7 separate regions of the Homo sapiens genome follow, and all the other regions are reported to be linked to region 5. Evidence: microRNA targets listed by miRTarBase, many of them from high-throughput screens and not tested one by one. Region 5 holds a microRNA gene; each other region holds the end of a gene's coding sequence.
What was found. Region 5 holds the annotated microRNA hsa-miR-5011-5p (UAUAUAUACAGCCAUGCACUC, at 1,082-1,102, shown strand). A microRNA usually pairs through its seed, bases 2 to 8, with sites in the 3' UTR of a target mRNA and lowers its output. Matches are read on the target gene's strand: a 7mer-m8 pairs with bases 2 to 8, a 7mer-A1 pairs with bases 2 to 7 and ends in A, and an 8mer does both.

Region 1 (4,099 bases), not on the chromosome of region 5:
CATTGGCTCATGTATAAGGGATTATGAAATAATCTTAAAAGTTAGTAATGAGATGTTTCAAAGAAGAAAAATATTGAATAAAGTCATCATGTTCCCTTATAAATAACTTTACTGCATAATTCTTTCAGCCAAACCAATATTAACCTTGTGATGTTTAGTTACTGGTAAAGATTAATGCAATACAACAGGACCTATACTTGCGTAGTCACACAATATATGTTAAAAGAATAAGTAAACCTATTCACAGCAGCAGAATACCAAGAAATAAATGGTTAAACTGTTTCTTTCTAAATCTGAAGGAACAAAAAGGTTTTCTTCAATATGTACAACACTAATAAATTGGGACACTCCTCCTATTTTGCTGAGTCACTTAAAAATCTGAATTTAAGCTGTCATATTAGAAGACAAACAATGAAATACAAGATTAAGCTAAACTTGAGAATTAAGATCATGACCATAAATACCAACTAATTTTTGGTTTACATAAGGTAATTTTTGATTTATGGAGGGAAAAAAACCTTTAAGAATTTAGAATCATAATATAGCCTCCAGCTGACATAGTAATTGTTCTCTGGGCTGTTGTTGACTGTAGTATTAGTGTGGCATGCTCTTTGTCAAATTCAGATCCATTAAAGCATCCTTGAGTTGTTAGAGAATAGTAACCTACTAAACATAATTTGATGCCCAACAACCTTTAATTAAGCGAACTCTCAATGTATGTTTCCTGATAATGTGTAGTCTTAAAATACATCAGCCTTGAAATATTTTCATTTCTAAAAGAAATGTTCCACATTTTGGAATGTGGTTAACAAAAAGTCATGCTGCATTTACCCCCTTGTAATGTCCAGGATTCAAAAGCAGAATTTTGTAATGATGCATTTATCTCCTCAGCCATTTCTGGTCCCTGATTAAATAGATTTTCATTACTACAAGGATAAATTTGTCAACTAGTTAATGTTTCATATTGAGAAGAAGGCAAGGATGCCATTTTCTCACCTCCACCTAAGGGCATCCAATTGGCATTTTTCTAATCAGTTACCACTGCAGAAAATATTTTTACCTAAATGTAACAGTTCAGAATAAAAATATCCTCCATCCACAATGCATGTAAAACTGTTGCACAGTGAAGTGGTCTCCTAGAACCATGGGGTAGAAGAATAGTTCCCTTTGGGAGAAATAGGATTAGAACTCCAAATCTGAATTTTTCCTCTTTATAGACTAGATAGGTTGAAAAGGGGTTATCACCTTATTGAAGGCTAACACATTAGCCGAAGACATACTGAAGGGGGTCCAATGTGACTTTTACCAGGTTCTCATTTGGAATGTGCCTGGGGCAATTAAAAAGAGAAGTAATCCATGAGACATAAAAAGAGAAATCTTAGGGACAATGAGGCTGGCCCAGTATAAAGTCCAGGGAGATTCTGGACTGTCTATCATGATTAGTTGTAGCGGCTCTAGTAAGTTGGCTCACATAAATACTGTTGAATGGATGGTCTTAGGGACACTTTGCATCCAAGAGGGGATTTGAAATTAATGTTTTAGGACGCTTTTCAAAGAGGAAATATTTTATAAAGAGAAGAATGGCTACCATCATAGGAATGGTACAGATATTGAGAAAGGATTCAATTCTAACAAATAAATAAGAAAATAGGATAGACTGCTTAATGATGGTGCAGTTAACATACCTTCTGGTCTTAAAGGACTACATACTGTACTATCGTGATGTACATTTTATGCTCTAATAAATATCATAGGAAATTATTAAAGTACTAGGTTCCCACCATGTTGCAGCACTTCTAAAAATGTCTCTAATGGTGTGGTTAACAGAATTGCTGAAATGTTGCTTCATTATTCAGAGGATACATGCAGATGCTGATGAACCAGATAAACTCTCTAAGGATGGAATACTGCACATTTCACAGACATTATAGTGGAGATTAATAAAATGTTTTCTCTTCAACAAGGTGCATGCATTTCAGTCACAGTATTTGTTAGACTCAGAAGAACAGTACATACGCTTTATGAATAATCCATATTATGATAGTAATGATGCAGGTAGATGTTCTATTATGAATAGTTTTGATAAAGCAGAAAACCTCAAGCAAGGTAGAATGTTCAATATAAACCTTAACAAACTGTATACTTGTTGCTTAGGAACTTAAAACTTACTTACAAAGTTCTGCTTAAAAGATACCCATCCTATTCTAACCAAGTATCTTCCTATATGCCAAGCTGTGACTTTAGATCATTCTTTAAGATTAATACATATATCCAGAACTAGAAACCAAGGCGTACCACAAAACGTGCTTTTATGTTTAGTGTTTTTGTGTGTTTTTCAACTAAAAGAAATAAGAATCAACCATTTTCTTCATATAATAATTTAATATATGCCAGCCAAACAAAGTATTTGTATCTTTATTCAATTAAATTAAAACAGACCTGCCAGGTATATTATATAACATTCACTATATACATATGATTTAGGCAATGCAAGATAATTCTAGATATGCTGATTACTCAACTATGTGTAAAACATGAGCGGTGTCAGTGATGCCCAGCAAGTGCTCCTTTTCACATTGGGTGCCTGCATTTCCATGGTATGGTTAGAGGGATAGCTACGAGCCATGACATGGACTACCAGTAAACTTCTGTGGGAGAAGGAGGGAAAATGACAATCTAGCATAGATGAACAGTCTCCTAAATGCAAATAGAATAGTTGACAGTTATTTTTTTTTAAAAAGTTCTTCTGTCATGTTAATGACACAAAACTTCTCTTTTTTGAAGGCAACACCACCACATTTTGTTTGGGTGTGTGGGGACAGGTGGGGGGAATGCTCTTAAAATTGGTACAATTATTCCTAAAACAACAACAACAACAAAAAAGTACCTCTTTGGTGAAGCCTCGGTACCCATTCAGTTCACCGTAATAATCTGTAAACAGGCCTGTAGTACAGTGCCGGGCCTTGATTTCAACAAGGTCAGGTACCACAGCCTTTCCTCACAGTCCTTTGAGTGATTTTTAAGAAAATATTCTAAAGTAGAAGAGTAAAGCAAAGGAAAACAAAGGAAGATATTAAGATCCCTGTTTAAGTTTTTTTTTTTAAAAGTGCATAATTTGAATTACAAAAACTGTCATGTGGGCCTGCTGGACACTAGACTGTGTTTTCCATCCCTTTAATGATCACTTCACAAAAGATCACTTCACAAAAAGAGGACTCCTGCCTATTGGCCAGAAAAAGTCCCTTTATGATTTTCAGGTGCAATCAGTTGTCCAATTCCTCTAGGTCGGTCTTTCCATATTCTAAACTGGAATACCATTTCCATTGTATAATTACATCTAGGTTAAAATTCATTGTCTTATACTGCATCTTGAAGAAGAGTCGTTAGTGTTTGGAGTTCTCATTTTAACTCCTCAGTGCTGGCACATTCAGTGCATCCATTGCCAGCAATGGATTTGGGGCTAGGAAAATATACATCCCAGTACAGAGGAACTCAGGAAGAATGGGCATTCTCCAACAGTGGTGGTCCATCTCTGTGCATGGATGGGTGTGTGTGCTCCCTTTTGTAAGTTTTTGGAGGGAGTTTAGGGATATGTTGAGAAGTGCTTTGTCGTGGAGGAACAGGCGGCCCAGCAATGGAATGAAGGTCCACTTCTTGTGTCAATGGTGGTGATGGCAGATGCCTTCTTGTGCCGTGAGGAGAAGGTGTTTGAGGAGGAGGTGGTGTAAAGGGGGAAGGGCTGTTTGGGAAGAAGGCATTGCCATGGTCACTTTTTTTGCCCAAAGGGGGAGGTTGGAGATGTAGTGGTGAGCTTGAGAAAACATCAGGTGTCCTCACAGGTTCTCGTGGTGGTAATAAGGGAGGGCTTTCAGGAGGGTCTGAGATAGAGGTCCGGTCTGATATTGAATATCGTGGTGAATAGGCTTTTGATGTGGGTTGCCTAGGAGGAATGGCTGGGGGACTGTCCAAATGCTTAGACATAATCTAACAAATGAAAAGAATAAAATACACATTTATTAATAAATTTATGAAGTATCATGACTATAAGAATTAAGTTGGGGTTTTCAAACATGCTATTGGCAGGATGCTAAGTGTGGAA
Region 2 (4,000 bases), not on the chromosome of region 5:
GGTAGTGGTGGTAGGGAGAAGACCAGATCTTCAGGGAAAATTAGAAGTATTAAAAGGGAGTCAGCCTGGGCTTGGGTTGGCTCTAGCCCAAGGACCCTTCCATATGCTTCAAGTCTAGACCTAGAAGAGACTGTTATGGCAAACATTAGTATGACCATTGGGTGCCCTCTCTAGATATTCAAATCCAGGGTGCCAATGTCCCAGTTCGGCAGTGTAACCTCCTCTGGAGGATCACCCTTGGGCCACTGGAGACTCCTCACCTGGAGTTTTCTGGGGAATGCTCTCTCTTGGCTGCAATGGAAGCCCCAGAGCACACTTGGGATCAGGAGAAATCTGACATTCCAGAGCCCCCCCATAGGTCAAGCTGAGGCTGAAGTCCCAGAATTTCCTCTGGGATTGATTGAGACTCCACTTGTAACTGCATTCTTTCTTGTGTTTATCCTGCTAATATGTTTCTCCTAAGAGGATTTCCTTTTAATAAATCATGTATACACAGCTCCCTGTGTCAGGCGCAGCCTCTAGGGAGCACATCCAAAGACAACTAATGGTCCACACATTTTAAAGTCTCTGCTATCAAAGCCAGTTCATCCTGCTGCCTCTAGATACCCATTCCCTCAAGATACTCAAGAGCAGACACCAATTTGCTCTCCCTATCTTACTCCACTGCCTCCAGGACTATTTGTGGGACAGATAAGTTTTCTTGGACTTGTTTTATTCCTGAGTAAAGGACTGTTAAGGAATTTAGGAGTCAGGATGAGAACCTGTTAAGTGGCTTCTTCCAGAGGAGGAGGATGAGCTCTTCTGCTACTTACTAAGCTGCAGCAACAAGTACCCAGGCTGCTGGCTTCTTGCCAGTCAGCTTGGGTTTTCTTGAATGAGGCAGTCATTGTCATGAGCGTAAGTTTTTTGAGTGCAGAAAGTCCCTGGACTTGAGGGTGGCAGGAATATCCCCCAGATATGACTCCTCAATCCTCAGCTCCTTACAGCTAACCTACTTCTGTAGAACTTCTGTTTCAGCCTCTCACACACTGCAAAAGAGGCATCGGCATCGGCCAGTTCCTATATGTCTTTTTCCAGCTCAGAAGACACTTAAGGGCAGACAAACTTTAAGTCAAGAAAGATTAAGAAGGAGAACTCTTTGCTGAATTTTCTCTCCCTTTATTCTGAAAACTCTACCCCCTCACATCCCTAATCCCTGTTCTGTCCCTGCCACATACACACACAGACGTCTGACCCTGCACCTCCAAGTTCCCAAAGATATTGTACGTAGAAAAAACAAACCTTTTTTTATTGACATTCACACTCAACACTGAACACTCCTTGCCACCAACTGTGTGGGTTTTCTCCCACACTGGCCAATTCTCCAATACCAACTGGATATCATACAATTCAATTCTGGCATTAATCGGCATTAAGTGCAGATCCCCAGCAGGTTAAGAGCTCAGTCCCATAAGATCTCCCCCAACTTCAGACACCAGTCACAAGCAGTAGGTTCCAAAGTTACTCACATCTTCTATCTGACGTGGCTACAAAGCAGAGGTTCCCATGATTTCCTTCTCAGATTTCACCATTTGCTAGAGTAGCTCACAGAACTCAGGAAAGGGCTTTATTTACTATCATCAGTCTATTATAAAATAATATAACTCAGAAACAGCCAGATGGAGGCACAGGAACAGGTTTGGGGGAAGGGGCACGGAGCTTCCACGGCCCCTTTGGGCTCACCACTCCTCATGTATTGAGCAATGCAGAAGCTCTCTGAACCTTGTCCTTTAGATTTTTATGGGAAGCTTTATTCTTAGGCATGATTGATTAAATCATTATCCATTTGTGATCGACTCAACCTTCAGCCCCTCTTCCTTCCCCAAGGTCTGGGAGTGGGGCTGAAAGTTCCAACCCTCTAAACACATGGTTGGTTCCCGTGGCAACCAGACCCTATTCTGAGGCCATTCAGAAGCCCCTAACTATCAGTCATCTCATTCGCGTACTACCAGACACATCACTTGGGAGGTCCCAAAGGTTTTAGGAGCTCTGCACCAGGAATAGGAAGAAAGACCAAATACATATTTCTTCTTGTAAATGACAATAACATAGATATGTTCTGGGTCCTATACTTGTAGGATTCAGTTTGCCATCATGTTTCATGTTAATAAGAAGTTAATATTCAGCTTTCTCAAACTAAGAGACATAGACTACCACTGTAAGGTATGAGCCACAGCACAAAACATAGTTCTTTTTTAAAGCACAATTCTTCTCAGAGATTTAAGGAGAATTTATGTACATATATACATACACATATATATGTACATACTAACATGGATATAGTACATTGTAGAATGCAAGATTTGCATTATTTCTGATAAATGTAAGACTGCAATGCAGTTTTATGCCAGTACTGCTTTGGACAGTGTCCCCAGACCTTTAGCCAAGGTCAATTTACCCTACTATAGTCTGAATGTTTGTGTCTCCCCCAATTTCATATGTTGAAATCTTAACCCCCAAGCTGATAGTACTAAGAAGCAGAGCCTTGAGAAGTAATTGGGTCATGAAGGTGGAGCCTCCAGGAATGGGATTAGTGCCTTATAAAAATGCTCAAGGGAGCTTATTTGCACTTTCCACCATGGAAGGACACTGAGAAGTCAGCAAGCAGTTTGCAACCTGGAAAATTGCTCTCACCAGAACCTGAGCATGCTGGCAGCCTGACCTCGGACTTCCCAGCCTCCAGAACTGTGAGAAATAAATTTCTATTTTGTATAAGCCACCTATCTATGATATTTTGTTATAGTAGCCCAAACGCACTAAGACATACCCACGGCCTAGTAAGCACTGTGCCTAAGGACCATAATACTTGTAAGGGCCCACTAAAATGTTTTTAATTTCTTTTAAAATCAGAAGAAAATACATAAACTTTTAGGTTGAAGAAAATGCTAATATATTCACCTTTTATCAATGCAGTTATAAATATATATTTCTGTGTGTGTGTATATATATATATATATATATATATATATATATATATATATATATATATTTGTTACTACTATTTTGAATGTAGGAAATGGTTCGCAAAGGCAAAAGTACATAAAGCCCACAAAAATTATGATGCAGCCCTGCTTCCAGGGGAGTATTTTCAGTATACAGTGAAAACATGTGAAAAACTTTCAATTTTAGGTATCATATTCTTGCAACTTGTGATTTTTGAGAACTGAGATCTTCAGATCCTGAGGGAATGAATTCCACAATTTCATACATCCTTAAAAGTGTAGATTTGTAGGACAGAGACTCCTGCTGATCACACTGCAGGAGCCACTGTGTAGGGCAACCTATGTTAAGAGTAACTTGCTCACTCACAAGCCATTGCTTCTGCCCCTAAATTCTGCAACCAATATTTACAGAGACTGATGAGCCCTCTCACATGAGTCTGTCTGTTGAATGATAAAATCTTAGATCTTGGAGCAACATTTAGGCCTACTGAGCCCCTCTCCACCAATGCAAGAGCACCTTTGTCACCCCTCAGCATCAATTTGAGCACATCCTGATGTTCCACTTGAGAGCTTCAAAGCAGTTTCCTTTGTGTTATTGTCTTGTAAACATACTCCAAATGTAAGAAAATACAGAGACACACAGGTTGCTGGTGATACGTTAGGAGGATCACAGAATGAGCATGCCACTCAACACCATGAGTCATTGATGGTGGATGAGCTACATATTGTGGGCAGTACCCACAAGGACCATTGTCGTCTCATCATCCTCAGGGCTAAGTTGCAGACCATTGTCCACCACTCTGTGGAGGGTGCTATAGTGTTGCTGGCTTTGGTGGAAAGAATGCAGCTCTGAAGCAGCCTCCCAGGCAGCAAACGTAGGCATGGGAAAAGGATCTGGCCTCTTGTTTTCAAAAAAACATTTCAGGTTCCTCTCGCTCAGCTTGTTGGCATAGTCCAGAAATGTATTTTCCAACTGCTCCTTCTCCTTTTGTGCATATGTCTTCCAAAAACTCAGCTGA
Region 3 (4,095 bases), not on the chromosome of region 5:
TTGCAGTGAGCCGAGATCATGCCACTGCACTCCAGCCTAGGTGACAGAGCAAGACTCTGTCTCAAAAAAAAAAAAGAAAGTTCACTAATCTTTGGAGTAAACAAAGCAAATGTAAGACTTCTGAACGATTGTGTGATCTTCAAATGTTCATCAGCTAGAAAAGGTCTGTTTATTGTTTAAGAGTTACTCATTTGCCAGACATTTTTTATTTTGTAATTTCTGTTTTTTTTTTTTTTCTACCAGAGCCTACATTCATCAGTACACAAAATTTGGAATCGAAGAAGAGGACTTTTTAGACAGTTTCACGTCATTAGAGCAGGTTGTTGCCAGTTACTGTAATCTCTGATCTTGAACAATGGGAAAAGTATACCTTAAGGCATTTCTGGACTAAAATATTTTCAATACTATTTTCTCTGTAAAGTTTTCAAAGTTCTCCATCCTGGCTAACACGGTGAAACACCGTCTCTACCAGAAAATACAAAAAATTAGCCAGGCGCGGTGGCGGGTGCCTGTAGTCCCAGCTACTCGGGAGGCTGAGGCAGGAGAATGACGTGAACCCAGGAGGCGGAGCTTGCAGTGAGCCGAGATCGCGCCACTGCACTCCAGCCTGGGCGACAGAGCGAGACTCCGTCTCAAAAAAAAAAAAAAAAAAAAATGTTTTCAAAGTTCCATTCTGTTAAAGTAACCACGTAGAATGCTGAGTCTATTCTGCATACTATGCCCACAGAAAAGGAAGAAAACTTTTTAAAATGGAGAATCGCATGTTTTCAATGAAAACATTCACTTGGTATTTCATTTGTAAGAAAAAAAAATGGTGCTTTTATAAAGAACTTTGGGGAAACACTTTGCTGAAATGTTGGGACTCTGGAACTAGCCAAGAAAAGAGAATATTCTCTTTGTCTACATGTTCCTAAATCTTTACTCCAAAACAACTCCAAAAACAACTCACAAAGCATGAACCAAACTTTCACAGCATAATTTCAAGCTAAGGAATTGTAATTCTGTACTTAATATATTCATGTTTGAAATGAATGCTTTGAACCACAGGAGGGAGATGTTGTCAAATGCTACAGTGTGAACATGTATTTTGAATATTCTGTAACAGGGCAAGTTTCCACTCTAAGCAGCTATTTAAAAATAAATATGAGGATTTTGGTAATAAATGCTTATGCTTAAGTACAAAAGTAAATAGGTAAATGTGTACTTAGTGTGCTTTTCTTAAACTTTTTGGGCATGAGAAAATTGGCTCAAATTTTGTTTTGGATCTTGGAATGCCAGAGCAGATATTGATTTTATTCAATTATTGCTTTAAAATTACTTATAATGGGCTGGGCATGGTGGCTCACACCTGTAATCCCAACACTTTGGGAGGGCAAAGTGGGAGGATCACTTGAGGCCAGGAGTTTGAGACCAGCCTGAGAAATACAGTAAGACCCCCATCTCTCCAAAAAAAAAAAAAAATTTTAATTAGCTGGGTGTGGTGGCATACACTTGTGGTCTGAGCTACTTTGGAGGTTTGGGTGGGAGGATCACTTGAGCCTGGGAGGTCGAGGCTGCAGTGAACTGGTATCGTGCCTCTGCATTCCAGCCCGGGTGACAGAGTAAGACTGTCTCCAAAAAAAAAAAAAAAGAATGAAATTACTTATAGGTATTCAGCTGGTACAGATGATGGTTATATGCTTTTCAGTAAAAGGGGTAAGAATTTTCACCTAAATTTTTCACTAAGTTGAGAAAATTATCACCAAGGAAATATAGTTACTTGATGAAATTGACGCACAAGATACGGGTTTCACCCAAGACAAAACGTGCTTGGAAATTGACAACTGAGTTTGAAGGGAATGTTGTATTTCCATAAAACACATCACATGCAATATATTAACAAATGTAAAATGATTAACAAATAGGAACATTTGCCCTTTCTGCCAAATCTACCAATAGTGACTTTTATATGGAAAAATGACAGTTCACAGCTTCACTGGTTCTTCTTTTTCTTTCCATATGGAAATGATTACCTTTTTGCTGTTTTTCTTATCAACTGTTGCTATGATTTAAAATACTGAACCATATCTTATTTGTAAGGAATGTAAAAAGTGGTCGGTTCTGCTGCTAAAAGGCACACCCCGCTGCTGCATTTCGTTAAGCCAAGTACACTTGAAAAATAATTAGATCATAATTTTTACCAAACAAGTTAAAGTAATTGTTTAAGCATTGAAGAGATCCACAGACTGAAACAATTTCCCAGACTAAACCAGCATTCATGAAGATCTGTAACTGAGTATCTCACCAGGGGTTAATCTGATTCTGAGGAACCTTACTAGAAGTTAACTTGAAAGAAAGTCGTAAGTTGAAATCATTTGATATTTGAGAAAATTCATGAGGTACCAATAGGGGCAAGTATATTTCTAATTTGGCAACTCGTGGAATCATTAGCAGGTGAACATTAGAAGCAAATCCCAACTAGACAGAGCTCTGGGTCCATTTACTTATGCTATTTGACCCTTTTTTATGATCCACAACTGCATTATTTGATATGTATGGTTACCTATTACATATATATGTGTGTGTGTGTGTGTGTATGTATTTTTTTTTTTTTTGAGACAGCGTCTCGCTCTGTCACCCAGGCTAGAGTGCAGTAGCATGATCTCAGCTCACTGCAGCCTCAACCTCCCAGGCTCAAGCAATCCTCCCACCTTAGACTCACTAATAACTGGGACTATAGGTGTGCACCACCATGCCCAGCTAATTTTTGTATTTTTGGTAGAGACGAAGTTTCCTCATGTTGCCTGGGCTGGTTTCAAACTCCTGGGCTCAGGCTATCTACCTGCCTCGGCCTCCCAAAGTGCTGAGATTACAGGCGTGAGCCACCATACCTGGCCAATGCCTAAATATTTTAAAGCTTGGGTTAAAACATTCACATGGAAAATAATTTTTTCTTGTCTACTTGGAATAACAAAATTTTTGCTCTTAAAGTTGTGATTTTAAGTTAAAAATTAACACCAAGATGCTGATGTCAAAACTTCAGATGGAGTGGCATTGGAAATGTGCTTTGATTTGTGTGGAGATAATGGCCAGTCAGCCAGGAGGACAACATTGGCTCCCTTAGCTCCTGGGCATACAGATCCAGAAAACTTTGAAAGTGTAATTTCTTAGATTATGGGATAACTGGCACATTACGTTGTCAAACATTATCCTGCAGAGCCAGAATGCACCCCTGTGGACAATGAGCACAGTGTGAATGCATACTGTTTCTTATTGTCAAGCTCTTTCTCTCTTACCTCCCCAATCTTTCCTCAAGAGCTTAAGCTGTAGAACCTGTTTTTTCCCATGCATTCGCCACTTCCAGCCCTGGGATCTCCCCGAAAACTCCCCTCCCCTATCCACCCTTACTATTCAATCTACAACATCTTTCAACATCTTTCTCCTATATTTTACCCATCACTTAGAACTCACTAAGTATGCCAACAATTCACTATTATCAGCCAATTCATCCATTCAACCAGTATCATCTATTCAGTGCCAGGCACTGAGGAAGATGTTAAGGATACAGGGATCAATGCTACCTTGTCTGAAGAAGCTTTTTGGGATGTTTAGTGCTACAATTCTAGCTTCCTAATTATTGCTTGTTATCTTGCCTGTGTGCATATTCACCTTTTTTCCAGGAAAGAATGTGGTCCAAGAAAGAAAGAAAGAACAATGAACTCAGAGCTCTGGTCTGGGCTAGGCTTAAGTGTTGAAATGTCTCTTCACTGGCTCTGTAGGCTCTATAAACTCTACTTTGCAGTATACATACTAGTGATTCTCCTGACCACCATGTGTATCACACTTGAATTCCTGTCCAAAATTTTCTTTTAAAACATACTGCATATGTCCCTAACCCACTATCTTCTCTCATGAGCCCAAAGTTTAGCAGATACCCCTTTCTTGTTCTGCCACCTACCCACCAAATATGGCTTTAACCACTAGCTTGTCATTTTGGGCCAACAATCATTTATTTTATTTTATTTTATTTTTGAGATGATAGGGTCTCACTCTCTTGCCCAAGCTGGAGTGCAGTGGTGTAATCATGGCTCACTGCAGCCTCAACCTCCCAAGCTC
Region 4 (4,099 bases), not on the chromosome of region 5:
GTATGTTATTTTACCATTTATACTGTCCTTCATTTTACTACACTAACAGGAACTGAAAATCTAAAAAAAAAATCTAATACATTACCTGTCATAATGACATTCTAAAAAAATTTTTAGCAGGTCACTATTTTGACAGATACTTATTTTTTTTCTTTCAGATCTTTCCTCGGATCCAGATGAATTAACAAATGTTGCTGTAAAATTTCCAGAAATTACTTATTCTTTGGATCAGAAGCTTCATTCCATTATAAACTACCCTAAAGTTTCTGCTTCTGTCCACCAGTATAATAAAGAGCAGTTTATCAAGTGGAAACAAAGTATAGGACAGAATTATTCAAACGTTATAGCAAATCTTAGGTGGCACCAAGACTGGCAGAAGGAACCAAGGAAGTATGAAAATGCAATTGATCAGTGGCTTAAAACCCATATGAATCCAAGAGCAGTTTGAACAAAAAGTTTAAAAATAGTGTTCTAGAGATACATATAAATATATTACAAGATCATAATTATGTATTTTAAATGAAACAGTTTTAATAATTACCAAGTTTTGGCCGGGCACAGTGGCTCACACCTGTAATCCCAGGACTTTGGGAGGCTGAGGAAAGCAGATCACAAGGTCAAGAGATTGAGACCATCCTGGCCAACATGGTGAAACCCTGTCTCTACTAAAAATACAAAAATTAGCTGGGCGCGGTGGTGCACACCTATAGTCTCAGCTACTCAGAGGCTGAGGCAGGAGGATCGCTTGAACCCGGGAGGCAGCAGTTGCAGTGAGCTGAGATTGCGCCACTGTACTCCAGCCTGGCAACAGAGTGAGACTGTGTCGCAAAAAAATAAAAATAAAATAATAATAATTACCAATTTTTCATTATTTTGTAAGAATGTAGTGTATTTTAAGATAAAATGCCAATGATTATAAAATCACATATTTTCAAAAATGGTTATTATTTAGGCCTTTGTACAATTTCTAACAATTTAGTGGAAGTATCAAAAGAATTGAAGCAAATACTGTAACAGTTATGTTCCTTTAAATAATAGAGAATATAAAATATTGTAATAATATGTATCATAAAATAGTTGTATGTGAGCATTTGATGGTGCTCGATGAGTTACTTGTATTTGATGGGATTGTTTGGATGTATTTAATGGGAGTATTTGGAGTATTTAACGGGATGTAAACCCTGGATGTACCTGATTTTGTTACTGTTTTATTTTAATAGGTAATATATATACAGGGTAAAAGCTTCAAATGGTACAAAAGGGTTAACAGTGATCGTGAAGTCTCTGTCCTTTCCCTCTTCCCTGCCATCCAGTTCCCCCTCCAAGAAGCAAGTACCGAAACCACCTGCTTACGCATTTTTAGAGATTGGCCACAAATTTATAAACAAATGTATATATTCCTTTCCCCCTACACAAACGGTAACATACTGCACACATTGTTCTGCATGTTGCTTCTTTTTCCTTTTTTTTTTCACTTAACAGTAGATATCTAGAGGTGAAATTACTGAGTCAAGACTATATTTAGCAAAATTACACTAGATACTACAAATTACCTCTAAAGAAGGTATACTAACTGATAATCTCACCATCAATGCATGTCTTCTTATCCTTTGCCAACCTAACAGATAAAAATGTTCTATTTTTATTTTTCTTTTTATGAGTAACGTAGAGCATATTTTCATGTATTTAACAGCCACTGGAATCTGCTTTACCATGGCCTTTCCTATTTCTATTCTTTGCCTATTTTTCTGTTGGTTGTTGGTCTTTGTTTTGTATTACAGGTGTGCTTTAGATATTAGCTTTTTGTAAGAGATCCTGCAAATATCTTCTTTCCAGTTTGTCATTGTCATTTGTCTTTTGACTTTGTTCTGGTATTTTTTGATATGTAGAAATTTTTATTTTCATGTAAGCAAATTTATGAATCTTTGTACACCATAAGTATATACAATTATGATTTGTCAATTAAAAATATTAGTACAAAATTTACAGATCTTTGCTTTTGTGGCTTTTGGGATTTTGTATCATATTTAGAATGGCCTTCTCCACTTGTCATTTTTTTTTTTGAGACGGAGTCTCGCTCTGTCACCCAGACTGGAGTGCAATGGTGCAATCCCGGTTTCAAGTGATTCTCCTGCCTCAGCCTCCCAAGTAGCTGGATTACAGGCACCCGCCACCACACCCAGCTAATTTTTTGTATTTTTAGTAGAGATGGGGTTTCACCGTGTTAGCCAGGATGGTCTTGATCTCCTGACCTGGTGATCTGCCCACCTAGGCCTCCCAAAGTGCTGGGATTACAGGCGTGAGCCACTGCGCCTGGCCTCCACTTGTCTTCTTTTATAATTTTATTTTTCACCTTTGGATCTTTGACCCAGCTGGAATGTATTAAACATATTAGAAATCTAACTTTGGTTGTTTTTTTAAATATGCCTACCCATTGATCTTTTATTGAGTAAACTGTCTCTTCTCCCATTCGTAAAAATGTCACTTCATCATATAATACCTTTGGTTGAGTACATTATCTTTTCCTCCATTGATTTGCGATGCCATTTTTATCTATACCAAAGTCCCATTTATACTTATGCCATTTCTGAACATTTTATTTTCCACTGGACCATTCTATTTTCTTTGTTTCTGTTTTGTTTTTTGTTTTTTTGAGACAGGGTCTTCCCTTGTCACTCAGGCTGGAGTGCAGTGGCACAATCACTGCTCACTGCAGCCTCAATCTCATAGGCTCAGGTGATCCTCGCACCTCAGCCTCCCTAGTAGCTGGGACCGCAGGCACGCGCCACAAAACTCAGCTAATTTTTTAAATTTTTATAGAGACAGGGTTTCACTGCATTGCCCAGACTGGTCTTAAAGTCCTGCACTCAAGCAACCTGACTGTCTCAGCCTCGCAAAGTGCTGGGATTACAGGCATGAGCCACCACACCCAGCCAGACCAGTCTATTTTATTAGTCTGGTAGACAGTATCTGGTAGGACTAGTCCCTTTGCAATAGTTTTCTTTTTTCAGAATTGTCCTTCCTAGCAACTCTTGATTTTTCCATACAAATTTAGAATAAGTTTGTGTAGTAACAAAAATGAAAAGTCCTGTTGGCTTTTAAATGAAATCATTAAATGTATAACCTACTTTAGAGAGAATTTAATTCTTTATGATAGTTATTCTAAATAATTAGCATGTTTTTCCCTTTATTCAAGTCTTCTTTTATATCCCTCAGTAGTAGTCTAAGTTTTCTTCATATAGATCAATTTGTCCGGAAAAATTTTTGAAAAGCAGAGACTTTAAAAAATACCCCCCTAGGCTCTACACTACACCACTTGATTAGAGCTTCTGAGACAGCCTGGGCCTGCTGTGCTATTATTGTTGTCTTGCTGGTCAATCCCTCCAGCCATGATTCTAATATGTAGCCAGAGGTGGGTTTATTTCCAGTTGTTTTATCAGTTATTGTGATTTTAAGTGAATCTTCCTTCCATTATATCCTCTAAGAGAAGATCTTCTTGTTTATATGTGCACTCCATTTCCATATATTTATTTTATGCTGAATCACTTCATAGTGAGTAATAGTTTTTCAAGTGATATATTATTTTCCAAGTAAAAATCTTACCTGCAAATAATTTTACCCAACTTAATACTTCTTCAAACTGTCTTTGAAGTTTTCTTCATGAGTAAGTTCATCTCCTTTATTTATTTGTTTATCGTTCTTCAGTGAATTTATATGAGCTTACCTTTGCAATTATGAATTTCTGAGAAATGATTTTACTTTTGAATATATCTGATTTTTATTACATATGTATATACACATGCATACACAAACACACATATTCTGAAGTGAAACCCTTAAAAAGAAAGACTGAGTATTAAGGTTAAAATTAAACTATACAAATCCACCATCCATCTCCTAAATAAGCCTAAAGAACACAAGTAGCTAAAGTATGGGTATATATGCTAATCATAGAGAGAAAAGCAATAACAATAGAAATGTGGTCCTGAAAATAGGCTTGTGAAGATAAATCTACTTCATTCTACCCAAACCCTTTAAGATACACATTCATTGTAAGAATTTACCAAGCATCTGCCATGTTTTAAGCATATTAAGTACA
Region 5 (4,099 bases):
TAAATCATATAATTATTGGAAGGCTAAAGAAACAGGCTCAGAACAGGGCAGCCCCATGGAAACCAGGTTCCAGAATGGCAGTAAAATCCCCCCACAGGAACAGTCTGATGAGATAGCGCTGCTGCCACCGTGGCACTTCCTCCCCTAGGGCCTGGGATATTTGATGGTTAATTTCTGTACCTCTGTGATGAATACATACTTGTTTGTTTCTTACTGTTTTTACTTCTTGCTTCTGTTTCAAATTTCTCCCCGAAGCCATCTGTTTTAGTTTCCTCAGGCTGCCATAACAGATTAGCATAAAACAAATGGCTAAAAGAACAGAAATGTATTCTCCCCCAGTTCTAGAAGCCAGTTCAAACTCGGGTGTCGGCAGGATTGCATTTAATCCAGGATTCTAGGAGACAATTCTTTCTTATCTCTTCCAGTTCCTGGTAGCTCCAGATGTTTCTTGGAGCTACACTTGGCTATTTAAAGTTAATTTTAATGTTTAATTAACTAAACATTAAAATAATTAAAAAGTCAGTCCCTCCATTGTGTTAGCTGTATTTGAAATACTCAAAGGCACATGTGGCTACAGGCTACTATATTGGACTATGCAAGGGTAGAACACGTGTTATCACACAATGGTCTCTTGCACAGTATTGCTCTAGAATATTCCCTGGACAGAAAAGTTTTACCTGTGGGGCATTAAACAACAAAGAGCCTTACAATTGCCTCTGACTTGTATAGTAAAGCCAACAGTTGTTTGTTGTCATCGTCAGAAAAGTTGATTCCATATTTGAATATGGTTTCACTGCTTGTCATGCTTGGCCAATGCCACAAACCATGGATTAACTGATGGCCTTCTCCACTCTCATGGCTATTCACCCCCAACAATAGAACTTATTTCTTTCATGTTGCCTCATATGGCAGAATCCCCTTCTATTTTAAGGCTGAATAATATTTCATGGTCATATACATATATACACACACACAGTCATGCATTGCTTAACAGGGAAATGTACCTTAAGGCAATTTTATCATTGTTTGAACATCATGGAGTGTCCTTATCCAAACCTAGATGGTATTGAGTGGATGCTGTTATATATACAGCCATGCACTCTGTAGTTTGGGTACACAGTGCATGGCTGTATATATAACACTATCCATTCATCTTTCAGCAGGACTTTTTTTTGGTCACAACCCTGCTAACCAAAACAGGATCTGGCCAGAGAGCATGAAGTGAAGAAACTGATAGGAAGTGGCAGATGTCAACAAAAGCAATCTCTAACTACTCATTGCAATTTAATTGTCATGGTGCTGGTGGTAGTGTCTTATGCTAATGAGCAATATGAGCAGCCTGGCAACACAACCCAGAAGTTACCACCTCTTTCCATGGCAACAACCTAAAAGTTACTGCCCCTGCCTTAGAAAGTTCTAAACAACCTGCCCCTCAATTTGCATTGGCTCACCCCTCAATTTGCATGCATTTGACCTGCCTTAGAAAGTTCTAAACAACCTGCCCCTCAATTTGCATTGGCTCACCCCTCAATTTGCATGCAATTGAATGTGGGTCTCGCTGAGTATAAATACCGTTGCCAAGAGACCATATGTTGCTGACTCTGATTGCACTGCCTATGATTTAGCCCTGCTCTGCAAGGAGCAGTACCATTCAATAAACGATTGCTAAGACTCCTAGCTCATCCTTGAATTTTTTCCGGGGTTAAGCAAGAAATCCTCCCTGGCTAAGCCCCAGTTTGGGGCCTTGCCTGTCCCACAGCAGTGTAACGTACTACACACTTAGACAATATGACATAGACTGTATCTCCTAGGCTACAACTCTGTATAGCTTATTATTATACTGAATGCTATAGGCAATTGTAACACAATAGCATCCGTACATCTAAACATACCAAAACAAAGAAAAATTACACTAAAAACACAGTATCGTAATCTTATTGGACCACATTTATATATGTGGTTTTTTGTTGACTGATGCAATACACAGTGCATGGCTGTATATGTAACACTATCAGTCACCATTCAATGAGCAATTAGGTCGTTTCTATACTTTATTGCTACTAACACTACAATGAAATACATATGGATAAACCTAGAGGGCATTAAGCTAAGTAACTCTTACTTCTAAGATTTCTACCTTAAAGAGTCATATTTATGGCCTTTACTTGAGGTAAACTTCAGAAGCCATTTGTTGTGGATTAGGTAACGTGTGGAGAAATTGCTTTGTTGGGTTTTTCTTCCTTTGCATTTTAGTTTACACATATTAATTGTATGTATTTATAATCTGCAGAGTGATATTTTGATAAATGTATATGAAGTGTAATGATCAAATCAGAGTAATTAGGATAAACATCACCTCAAACATTTATCATTTCTTCATGTTTGGAATATTCCAAATCTCTTCTAGTTTTTTTAATATACACTATAAATTATTATTAACTATGCTTACCCTATAGTGCTATAGAACACTAGAACTTATTCCTCCTGTCTAGCTGTGACTTTGTATCCATTAATCAACCTTTCTCTGTCTTTAATAACATTATCAAACTGTGATTACCATAATTCTACTCTATACTTCTATAAGCTCATTTTTTAACTCCCACATATGAGAGAACATGCAGTGTTTATCTTTCTGTGCCTGACTTATCTCACCTAACATAATACCTTCCAGGTTTATCTGTGAATGGCAGAATGACAGAATTTTATTTTTCATGACTGGATATTATTGTATTGTATATATATGCCACAATTTCCTCAACTGTTCATCTTTTAAAGAACATTTAGCTTGATTCCTTATCTTGGCTATCACGAATAGTGCTGCAATAAATATGGAGATACAGATACGTCTTCTATAATTGATTTATTTTCTTTGGGTAAATACCTAGTAATGGGATTGCTATATCATATGGTGGTTTTATTTTTAGTTTTTTGAGGAACTTCCATACTATTTTCCATAATTACTGAACTAATTTGCATTTCCATTAACAGTGTACAAAACACAAGACTTGCTTTTTCTCCACATCCTTGCCAGCATGTTACTTTTTTTTTTGAGGCAGAGTATCAGGTCTCGCTCTGTTGCCCAGGCTGGAGTTCAATGGCGTGACCTTGGCTCACTGCAACCTCTGCCTCTTGGGATCAGGCAATTCTTCTGCCTCAGCCTCCCAAGTAGCTGGACTACAGGTACGTGCAACCACATCCGGCTAATTTTTTGTATTTTCAGTAGAGACGGAGTTTCACCATGTTAACCAGGCTGGTCTCGAACTCCTGACCTCAGGTGATCCGCCAGCCTCAGTCTACCAAAGTGCTGGGATTACAGGCTTGAGGCACTGCGCCTGGCTGCTTTTTTTCTTTTTATTATAGCCATTCTATTATATACACTTCCCTGATCATTAGTGATGTTGAGCAGTTTTTCATGTATCTGTTGGCCATCTTTATATCTTATTTTAAGAAATGTCTGTTCAGATTTTTTTTGCCCATTTTATAAATTATATACATATATATTTATATCTAGAGATATCTAATAGATTTGTAATTGAGTATCTTGTATATTTTGGATATGCAAATTCCTTGCCAAATAAACAGTATGCAATTTTTTTTTCTTTCTATAGGTTGTCTCTTCACTTTGTTGATTGTTTTCTTTTTCTATGCAGAAACTTTGTGTTTTTTTAAATACGATAACCAGCTAGATGCCTCATAGTGTTCTTCTTTAAGGCTCTGGCCCTCATTTTATAGATTCTTTCACATTATCTCTTTTTGGAAAATTAACTTTACTATTTTTTTGGAATGGAATGTTCCTTAGCTCAGTTTAATTATGCTGTGAATCTGACCTCCTTTGCTTTACATATTCCACAGATTCCTCACAGTCTGGGCCTGTCAATGACTCTGTTGACAGTTTTTCAATATCTACATGCATGATTTTGTTGTTGCTTTACAATTCTTCTGTTAATTCTGTTAATTAAGACATTCTTTTTTTTCTTCAAAGAATAGAGAAAATGTGTCATTTGGCTCCTGCCATTAAAGTAGAATTCCAAAAACAAGATAAAACAAAAAAGGTAGTTCTATTGGATATTTTTCTCTAGTGAATTCCATAAGTTAATAC
Region 6 (4,099 bases), not on the chromosome of region 5:
ATATACCACCTCTTCACGAGTAACTGTGGTATCAAGCCCTACAGATTTGAAAACAAAAGAAGTGCTTCTAACTCACACGGAGGCTCTGCTCCTTTGCGTCTCTATGTGGGTCGCCAGTAGGTATTTTAGAATATCTAGAAGGGAGATTATCCATGGGTACTGAAAGATCATTTTTTTTTCCCCATAGGATACTTCACCCGCCCCTGGCAGTGGGAGAAGATCAAGGCCAACTGCCCTTACATTGTGCAGTTTGGCTCTACTGACGACCCGTTCCTTCCCTGGAAGGAACAACAAGAAGTGGCCGATAGGTTGGAAACCAAATTGCACAAATTCACTGACTGTGGCCACTTTCAGAACACAGAGTTTCATGAACTGATTACTGTTGTAAAGTCTTTGCTGAAAGTACCAGCATAGACTGTATGATTTCTGCTATTTTGCATCCCAATATAGGAGTAGAATAATATCTACTATCAGCTGATTACTAGACACATAGAACATCCAGTTAAGTTCCGTAAGTGCCTGAAAAACAAACACAAGTTTCAACATTCAATCTAAGTTACAAATAGCACTTCCATTTTCCATAGACTCTAAAACTCCCCAAATTGCTATGAACTACCACAGTATTTTCCTCATTTGATAAGAAACATAAGGACAGCTTAACTACCCTTCTCTATCCGAAGTGAGTCAGAAACAGAACCCAGGTTTCTTGATTCCCACTCCTGAGTAAAATTAAATAGGTTTTATGTATGTTGCAGGTATTGCACACTTTTCCTCTTTGAAATCAAACTTTTCTATTTCACTGGGGAAAGAAAACATGACTGAAAGTCCAGAGTGTTAGCTTAGAGCTCAAAATACTAGCTGCTGTTTCAAGCTGGCCCCAGACATTAAACTCAGACTAGGGCCTTCACCTCTGACACTTGCCCCTAAGTCCTTCAGACATGTTGAGAGAGACTGAGACAGGAGTCTTCCGGAGTCAGGCAGGAAGGAGAAGCACAGCAATATACATTCATAATATACGTACAACTGACTAGATTTGTTTGAGACAAGAGTGGTGGGATCAGAGCCATGTGGAGAGCTCATGGCCTGTCTAAATTGTTGCCATGTGGAAATGGGGCAGAGTGTTGCCAATTTTCTGATTTTTTGTGTGGAAAAAAATCTCCAAATTGTAGTTTTTAAATTTGGGGAATGCAAATATATATATATATACACACACACACACACACATACACATACAATCCATATACATATGGAGTATGTAAGTTGGCAATAACAGTATACATCAAAAAATTTACAAACACTGCAAGACAAATAAAATCCAAGCCATCCATTTGTGACCACAGTCATAAGCATTCACTTAGCCAGGGGCTTTTAGATAATTGTCTGTGAAGTCTGAGAAAAGACTAAGATAACCAAGATGAACATAATGTCAAAGGACGAAATCATGGGGACAATTTGGATTTTGTTCCAAAAGACAAGTGTTTTTAAAAAGAACCTTTCCATACTTCGTGTTCTGTTCTATAGAGTTAAACCTTTTAACTTCCATGGCCCTTTAGATCTCTTTCAAGCACATTCCATTTTCTTCTGATCATACTTCCTCAGAAAACCTTTTTTTGGCTGGGTGTGGTGGCTCATGCCTGTAATCCCAGCACTGTGGGAGGCTGAGGTGGTTGTATTGCTTGAGGCCAGGTGTTTGAGGCCAGCCAGGGCAACACAGCAAGACCCCATCTCTACAAAATATTAAAACATTAGCTAGGCATGGTGGTGCACACCTGTAGTCCTAGCTTCTTGGGAGGCTGAGGCAGGATTGCTTGAGCCCAGGAGTTTGAGCCTTCAGTGAGCTATGATCGCGCCACTGTACTCCATCCTGGGTGATGGAGCGAAGAACCTGTCTCTTAAAAAAAAAAATTTTTTTTTAATTAAAAAAACCCACCCTTTTTCATTTCCCAACATTTTTTGGCTATTATGATCGCTATGTGTTCCTTCAAATAATTTCCAGTGAATCCACACTTGATGTTGCAAAGCCTAAGTTTGCTGCAGAAATACAATTTCCTACACTTCATACCTAAAGGAGATTCAGAGCTATCGCTCAAAACCAAAAGTCTTGGTTTTTAAATGTGCTTAGACAAAAAAAATCAGGAAAGGTACCCTAATCGTTCAACAGCAATCATCTTTGGGGAATGGGCATTTTGGTAGGTAAAGTGTGGTGGACGTCCTTATTATTATTTTTGAGACAGTGTCTTGCTCTGTCTCCCAGGCTGGAGGTCAGTGGCACAAATCTCAGCTCACTCTAACCTGCACCTCCCGGGTTCAAGTGATTCTCATCTCAGCCTCCCAAGTAGTGTGAACTAAAGGCATGTGCCACCACGCCTGGCTAATTTTTGTATTTTTAGTAGAGACAGGGTTTCACCATGTTGGCCAGGCTGGTCTCGAACTCCTGGCCTCAAGTGATCCACCCACCTCAGCCGCCCAAAGTGTTGGGATTACAGGCATGAGCCACCATGCCCGGCCCCTTATTTTACTTTATCCTCCTGATTATTTGAATTTGTTACACTAAGCATGTATTTTATAATCAAAAATAATTAAGATTTAAAACAATGTATTTGACTACTAAAAAGCAAATTATATAAATCAGTTGAATAATAATGTTGTTAAAGAGGCTGTTTAGCACTAATTTGACCAAATCTATAGTCAAAGTTTGATTCTACTTGAATTTTTTGGAAATTTGCTGTTGTATTACTTATTCTTTGCCTTGTTCTCTGTGAAGTCCTTTCCTAAAAAAGAAACTTATACAATTTAGTTCACAAAACTTTGTTGACCTCTTTCTCTGTAGAAATGAAAACTAAATATATATAATTGAGAAATAATTCTGATACTCTTCATTCCTATAAAAGTAATTAAGATAGACCTATAGGATTGTTGAACTTTGCTGCCAAATATAGTAACCAGTAACCACAGCTAGCTGTAAAATTGAAAATTCAGTTCAGTCAAACTAGCCATATTTCAAGTGCTCAACAGCCACTGGTGGCTATTGGTTACCTTACTGACCAGCCAATATAGGCTATTTCCGTCATTATAGAAAGCTCTATTGGACAACATTGGTCTAGGACATATATTTTGTATTTTCCCCTCACCCACCATCCAATAATGAGTAATAGCACAAAGTAAAAGTGACTTAATTTGAAATTACTTCTGTTTGGCTAGTTTGCTTAGCTGATCACCACCAACATCATAGGTCTATAAATCACCCAACTAAGATCAGGGGTGTTTCATGGGAAAATCTACACAAACTATTCATTAAAAACCATAGAGCCATGGACTGTCATTTCTGATTTCTGTTTGATTCTTTGTGGTCATCATTGAATATACAGGGGCCTCTATACACTCTGGGGAGTATCTATTCTCAGGTGAGCAAAATACCGAATACTGAATGGAAATCAACTGTAAGTATTAGGACTTCATATGCAACTTGAATTTTTGGTGCTGTCCGGAGTCTAGAGCCCCACAATCTGTTTTGGTTACAGTTTATCCCTGTAGGATAAATGATCCATTTAACTATTCATCAGAGGTGCTGTAATTTTAAATTGTCTCTTGTCTCCTTCAGTTAATTTTCAGAATTAAAAACATACCATGGGAAAAAAGCTTGAAGTTTCTCTTTATTGGTGAGGTAAGGAATACTTTTGTTTTAGCCATTGAATGTTAAGCTCTAAAAACCAATCTTTAGCTATAAAGACATAAGACAAAGTCTATATTTAAAACATACAAGCTGGTTTCTTCTCATTTCTAGCTCTCTTCCAAGTTCATTTTTCTTACTACATAAAACTAGTGCCTTTTTGATAGGCCAAGTCCCAGGAAGGACAGACATTGTTCTTACCATTCCAACTCTCACTGAGGGTGGAAGAGAAACCCTCTGTCTGTAGTTTCAGGTTCCCAGATCCTTCATATATATATATATATATATATATATATATATATATATATATATATATATATATATATATTTATATTTACATATATATATATTTATATTTACATATATATTTTTATATATATTTATATATATATTTATATTTATATATATTTATATATATAATTTTTTACA
Region 7 (4,000 bases), not on the chromosome of region 5:
GTACATACCTATCATTGACTATTAAAACATAACATACACATAAATGTGGTGTAGTAACTATGTAACTTAAGAAATTTAACAGTTCATGGAACATTTAAGATCAAGTGAATAGCACTTTAAAATGAAAAGTGATCAAAAGCAGGTACATTACACCCTATACCATATTATGTATGGGAATACATTTCATATTTCTCAATTATGATTTGCCAATTTTACCTTCTACATTGAGCCCTTCTATGGTCCATGCTCATCGGCTCACCAATGGCATACACTCAAAGGATTCCTCTTTATGGGTAACTATCTCAGGACCTGATTTTATGAGCTATGATTTGGTGCTTGCAGCATCTTCAGCACTGTGTGTGAAAATGAAGGCAGTATTTTTGAATATTTTTCTTTGTTGCAGAGATAAGCAGGAGTTTTAAAAGGATCAGCACATTTTAGAAATCGAATAAACAAAACTGATAAGATGCTGCTTTCATACATTCAACTTAACTCAAAATATGTACCAGTTAAAATCATCTATAAAAACACACAAACATTTTAAACTGGCAAAAAAATTAAATGCAGCGTCAGTTATTAAAATATTATTAAATCAGAAAAATACTGATTGCTACAGATTATGAAAGGTTATTTGCTATACAGTTAACATTTCACTGATGCACATGCCTTTTATCAAAACATACTGCCTTATAACTTTTTCCTTCTTCAGCATATAACTTTTGTCTAAGAAAAAAATCATAATAAAATTCTAACCCATAATATCCTTACTGAATTATTATAGTTTAAGAATAAGAAAAAAATAAAGAAATTATAATTTTGGAGGGCAAAGAAATTTTCTGTCCATCATATAAAACAGATTGTGAAGGCTGTTGAAGTTTCTAAACAAGTGATTTCCTAAATCTTGAAAACTGTGTAATTGTCCTTTCTTAATATTAACACTTCTATATTTGGGGAAAAAATACAAAAAGATTTGGATGTAGTTCAATTACTGCAGCAATCTACTCATCATTTTCTTGTCTTAATAAAAAAAAAAAAGTAAAATAAAAAACATTACCCAGAAATGTAAACAGTTGCTTTAACAACTTACAGACTTTCCACTAAGATGGTAGCATAAAATAACAAAATACATTTTGGGGAAGCAGTAGCAGATTGCCTTTGAATACACAACCACAAAAACCTCACAGGGACAACATTAATGTATTGAAATATTTATTTATATATGTCCTTAGGTTGTGCTTACCTGGTGCTTTTTGCAGCAGAACCTAAGGTGGAAGGTCTGGGAAGGCACTGTGAAGTATAAATAATTGCACTGTTTGCAATTAATAAAGATTTTAAACCTTAAATGAATCAAAATCAACAGCCTCCAATTTGTGAATTATGATACTGAATTCAACTGAACTACTTCTTCAGTTCAATTAATAAATGCACCACTTTCCTAAAAGGTCATCTATAAAACAGTATCATGCAAAATACTGCAATTGTTCACGTCAATACCCTACTCTTAAAGATAACAAATAGCTAACTCCTTAACTATTAAACTTCATACTAGAACTATATATGCAGATCTAAATAAGGGTAAGGGAAGTCACTCTAGGTTATATAAAACAATCAAAAACATTTCAAAATATCTACAATGAACTGTACTGCTATTTCCATCCTGTAGGTAATCTCAACATTTATGTCCTTGTACCTCTTCCTTTAAAGTATATTCAAAACAACAAATGGTGCTCTCCACCAATGACAAAATATATATTTATGAAATGTGTTAAAATTGCTACATTGCTCATTATTTGCAAACTGAAATCCCCTTCTGTCTGATACATTTCAAGACTTTCATATTAAATATAGAAGATATGCATATTTTACACTGAAAAACAATATTTTAGGAGCACCAGTGAATAATACTATTCAACTTTGTTAAGTATCAGTTTTCTTTAGCTATAGCTAAAGCATATAAAAAATACTTACCCATTAAGCTCACTTTAAAAAAAATACAGAACTATGTATTATTCTATGTTAAATTAAGAGGCAGTTATGGTTTTCCAAGATATCAGCACTGTATTCCAACATAATATTCACACAACGTATGGCATTTGCATTATGTGGAACATTGACAAAAAGATACTGTTGCAGTTCATCAATTTGTCATTCTGATGTACTTACAGTGCAATGCTCCTTGAAGGAACACAATCAAGGATGATACACAGCACAGTCCTCCTCACCCCTACAGAGCTAGTTCTATACTGGCTGGATCAAACCTGCACTTCAACAGACAATGGCAAGACAGACTGTATTTGCATGTAGTCTAATATATTAATATGCAAAGAGCCAACAAATATGCAAAGAGTAAAACAATGGATTTCAACAAAATATCAGAACTTCAGCATGAGTGTTAAAGAGTAATAAAATGACTTCAAGTACATAAAAAAATTAAGTTGATTCAATGATTGGACTTGTGCATTTACAAAACAAAGCTTATCTATACTGCATAAAGAAAAAAAAAAAGCTTGAACGTTTCCATACCCCATTTATGTTTCAATGGCAGATGCAATGTAGCTATACTTTTTGCACACTATTCACTTTTCTATCCTAAATTTAGAAAGAAACACACTAACATTATATACATTGAAAGAGTTGCTTCACATGGAAAAAAACTGTTCTTATTAGACTACTCATATTCACTATCTGAAAACTGTTTAAAATTAGTTATGCCGAAACAGTCTTGGAAATCAAGTATTATCAAATTAAGAACAGAAAGGTTAACTGTTATAGCAGCAGTACAGGTCTGAAACAGTGGTCATGTATAAAAGGAAATTTCACTGTTAATGCAATGGAAGTATGCCAAAAGATCATTGTACACACATGCAGTTTTTAATCAAACAGAAGGAAAAAAAATGAAGATATCAGGATTACTTGTGCTGAAAGAGCCAATACAATAAATGGAAAAGATCCTCCAATCTACCACTATACTGCAAGGGGGGAAAAACATGCCAGTGTTTAAAAACTCAATATTTCATGGGGAAAGCTTATATATTTGTGTATATGTATCTTAATTTATCATTGCTAAGAAATTATGAATCCTTTAAATACCCACATATCCAACTTACCGACACAGGAGGTTTCATATCATTTATTGTAAAGCACAAAACAGGCATTTTAAAAGTGAAAGTATACATTGAAAAAGTACATTTATATCACAAAGCATCAACCACATAATTGCAAATACATTTGCTGGAATGTGTACATCTACACTAAATACTAAAAACAAACCAATTTTCATTTCTACACAGAAATATTAACCTCCTATCAGTAGTGATAGATATTTTGTACATTTTCAAAAAAAAAAAAAAAAAAGGAAACACTATTTTAAACCAAAAACAAAATTAAGATCTTCATCAAGTCGTCTGCATCCATATATTTAACAAAGGTTTTTTTCCCCCACACAATGAAGCAAATACTGTATTGTCCACTTCTTATTATTGGCCCTGTGCAGAAGAGATACATAAGAAATACACAAAAAGTTAAAGAAAATCCTTGAAATGGAGCTAATTCAGGAGTGAATCCTTTAAGAAAGAAAAAGTGGTTAATATAAATGGTGGTGGCTTCTTGCATGATTTGCAAATCCCTGGGGGAAGAAAATTTATTTTTAAAATCAAAGGCATTGCAGAAATATTCACCACTCAGATGCTGGAAAGCATTATAAAAAACAAAAAAACCCAAACAATACACCGTAGTACTTCATTTAAATAGTTATTATACTTTGCCAGATAAAAATTTAAAAGGCAAACACTCCCAAACAGACAAACAGTAAACATGCAGAAAACAGACTGGAGTAGAAATCAACAAATTAGCAATTACATTATACCTGAGGTGCTGGAGGATGCTGTGGCATTCCCTGGGGACTTGTCTGGGCATAATAGGCTGCTTGTTGTCTATAATACTCAGCCCAGGCTGCACTATAATCTGGCTGACCACCTGGAGGAGCCCCAGTCGGAGCAGG

Region 1: miRTarBase lists SOS1 as a target of hsa-miR-5011-5p. The part of its 3' UTR that is shown has no 7-base or 8-base seed match.
Region 2: miRTarBase lists CALHM5 as a target of hsa-miR-5011-5p. Seed matches in the 3' UTR shown: 7mer-A1 at 3,022-3,028, 8mer at 3,020-3,027, 8mer at 3,018-3,025, 8mer at 3,016-3,023, 8mer at 3,014-3,021, 8mer at 3,012-3,019 and 21 more.
Region 3: miRTarBase lists TUBD1 as a target of hsa-miR-5011-5p. The part of its 3' UTR that is shown has no 7-base or 8-base seed match.
Region 4: the mRNA of ARSK is a reported target of hsa-miR-5011-5p. Seed matches in the 3' UTR shown: 7mer-A1 at 1,224-1,230, 8mer at 1,225-1,232 and 7mer-m8 at 1,392-1,398.
Region 6: the mRNA of RBBP9 is a reported target of hsa-miR-5011-5p. Seed matches in the 3' UTR shown: 7mer-A1 at 1,192-1,198, 8mer at 1,193-1,200, 8mer at 1,195-1,202, 8mer at 1,197-1,204, 8mer at 1,199-1,206, 7mer-A1 at 2,844-2,850 and 1 more.
Region 7: the mRNA of FUBP1 is a reported target of hsa-miR-5011-5p. Seed matches in the 3' UTR shown: 7mer-A1 at 3,028-3,034, 7mer-A1 at 1,747-1,753, 7mer-m8 at 1,746-1,752, 7mer-A1 at 1,553-1,559 and 7mer-A1 at 1,215-1,221.

The regions. Positions count from the first base shown.
Region 1 is chr2:38,982,332-38,986,430 of GRCh38, forward strand. It overlaps SOS1 (SOS Ras/Rac guanine nucleotide exchange factor 1), which reads right to left. Exons shown (of 23, transcript NM_005633.4): 23 at 1-3,984. The coding sequence ends at 3,493. Among named protein-coding and RNA genes, the nearest start is that of ARHGEF33, 95 kb to the left of the region's middle.
Region 2 is chr6:116,515,689-116,519,688 of GRCh38, reverse strand. CALHM5 (calcium homeostasis modulator family member 5) reads right to left here. Exons shown (of 2, transcript NM_153711.5): 2 at 1-4,000. The coding sequence ends at 3,700. All of the region lies in intron 3 of TRAPPC3L (trafficking protein particle complex subunit 3L), which reads left to right. Among named protein-coding and RNA genes, the nearest start is that of CALHM5, 6.0 kb to the right of the region's middle.
Region 3 is chr17:59,856,573-59,860,667 of GRCh38, reverse strand. It overlaps TUBD1 (tubulin delta 1), which reads left to right. Exons shown (of 9, transcript NM_016261.4): 9 at 244-1,189. The coding sequence ends at 346. Among named protein-coding and RNA genes, the nearest start is that of MIR21, 17 kb to the right of the region's middle.
Region 4 is chr5:95,603,079-95,607,177 of GRCh38, forward strand. It overlaps ARSK (arylsulfatase family member K), which reads left to right. Exons shown (of 8, transcript NM_198150.3): 8 at 159-2,024. The coding sequence ends at 448. Among named protein-coding and RNA genes, the nearest start is that of GPR150, 15 kb to the right of the region's middle.
Region 5 is chr18:67,080,526-67,084,624 of GRCh38, forward strand. It overlaps MIR5011 (microRNA 5011), which reads left to right and starts at 1,059; the gene lies at 1,059-1,161.
Region 6 is chr20:18,486,079-18,490,177 of GRCh38, reverse strand. It overlaps RBBP9 (RB binding protein 9, serine hydrolase), which reads left to right. Exons shown (of 5, transcript NM_006606.3): 5 at 188-3,638. The coding sequence ends at 414. Among named protein-coding and RNA genes, the nearest start is that of RBBP9, 9.1 kb to the left of the region's middle.
Region 7 is chr1:77,945,290-77,949,289 of GRCh38, forward strand. It overlaps FUBP1 (far upstream element binding protein 1), which reads right to left. Exons shown (of 20, transcript NM_003902.5): 19 at 3,866-4,000; 20 at 1-3,485. The coding sequence ends at 3,477. Among named protein-coding and RNA genes, the nearest start is that of FUBP1, 32 kb to the right of the region's middle.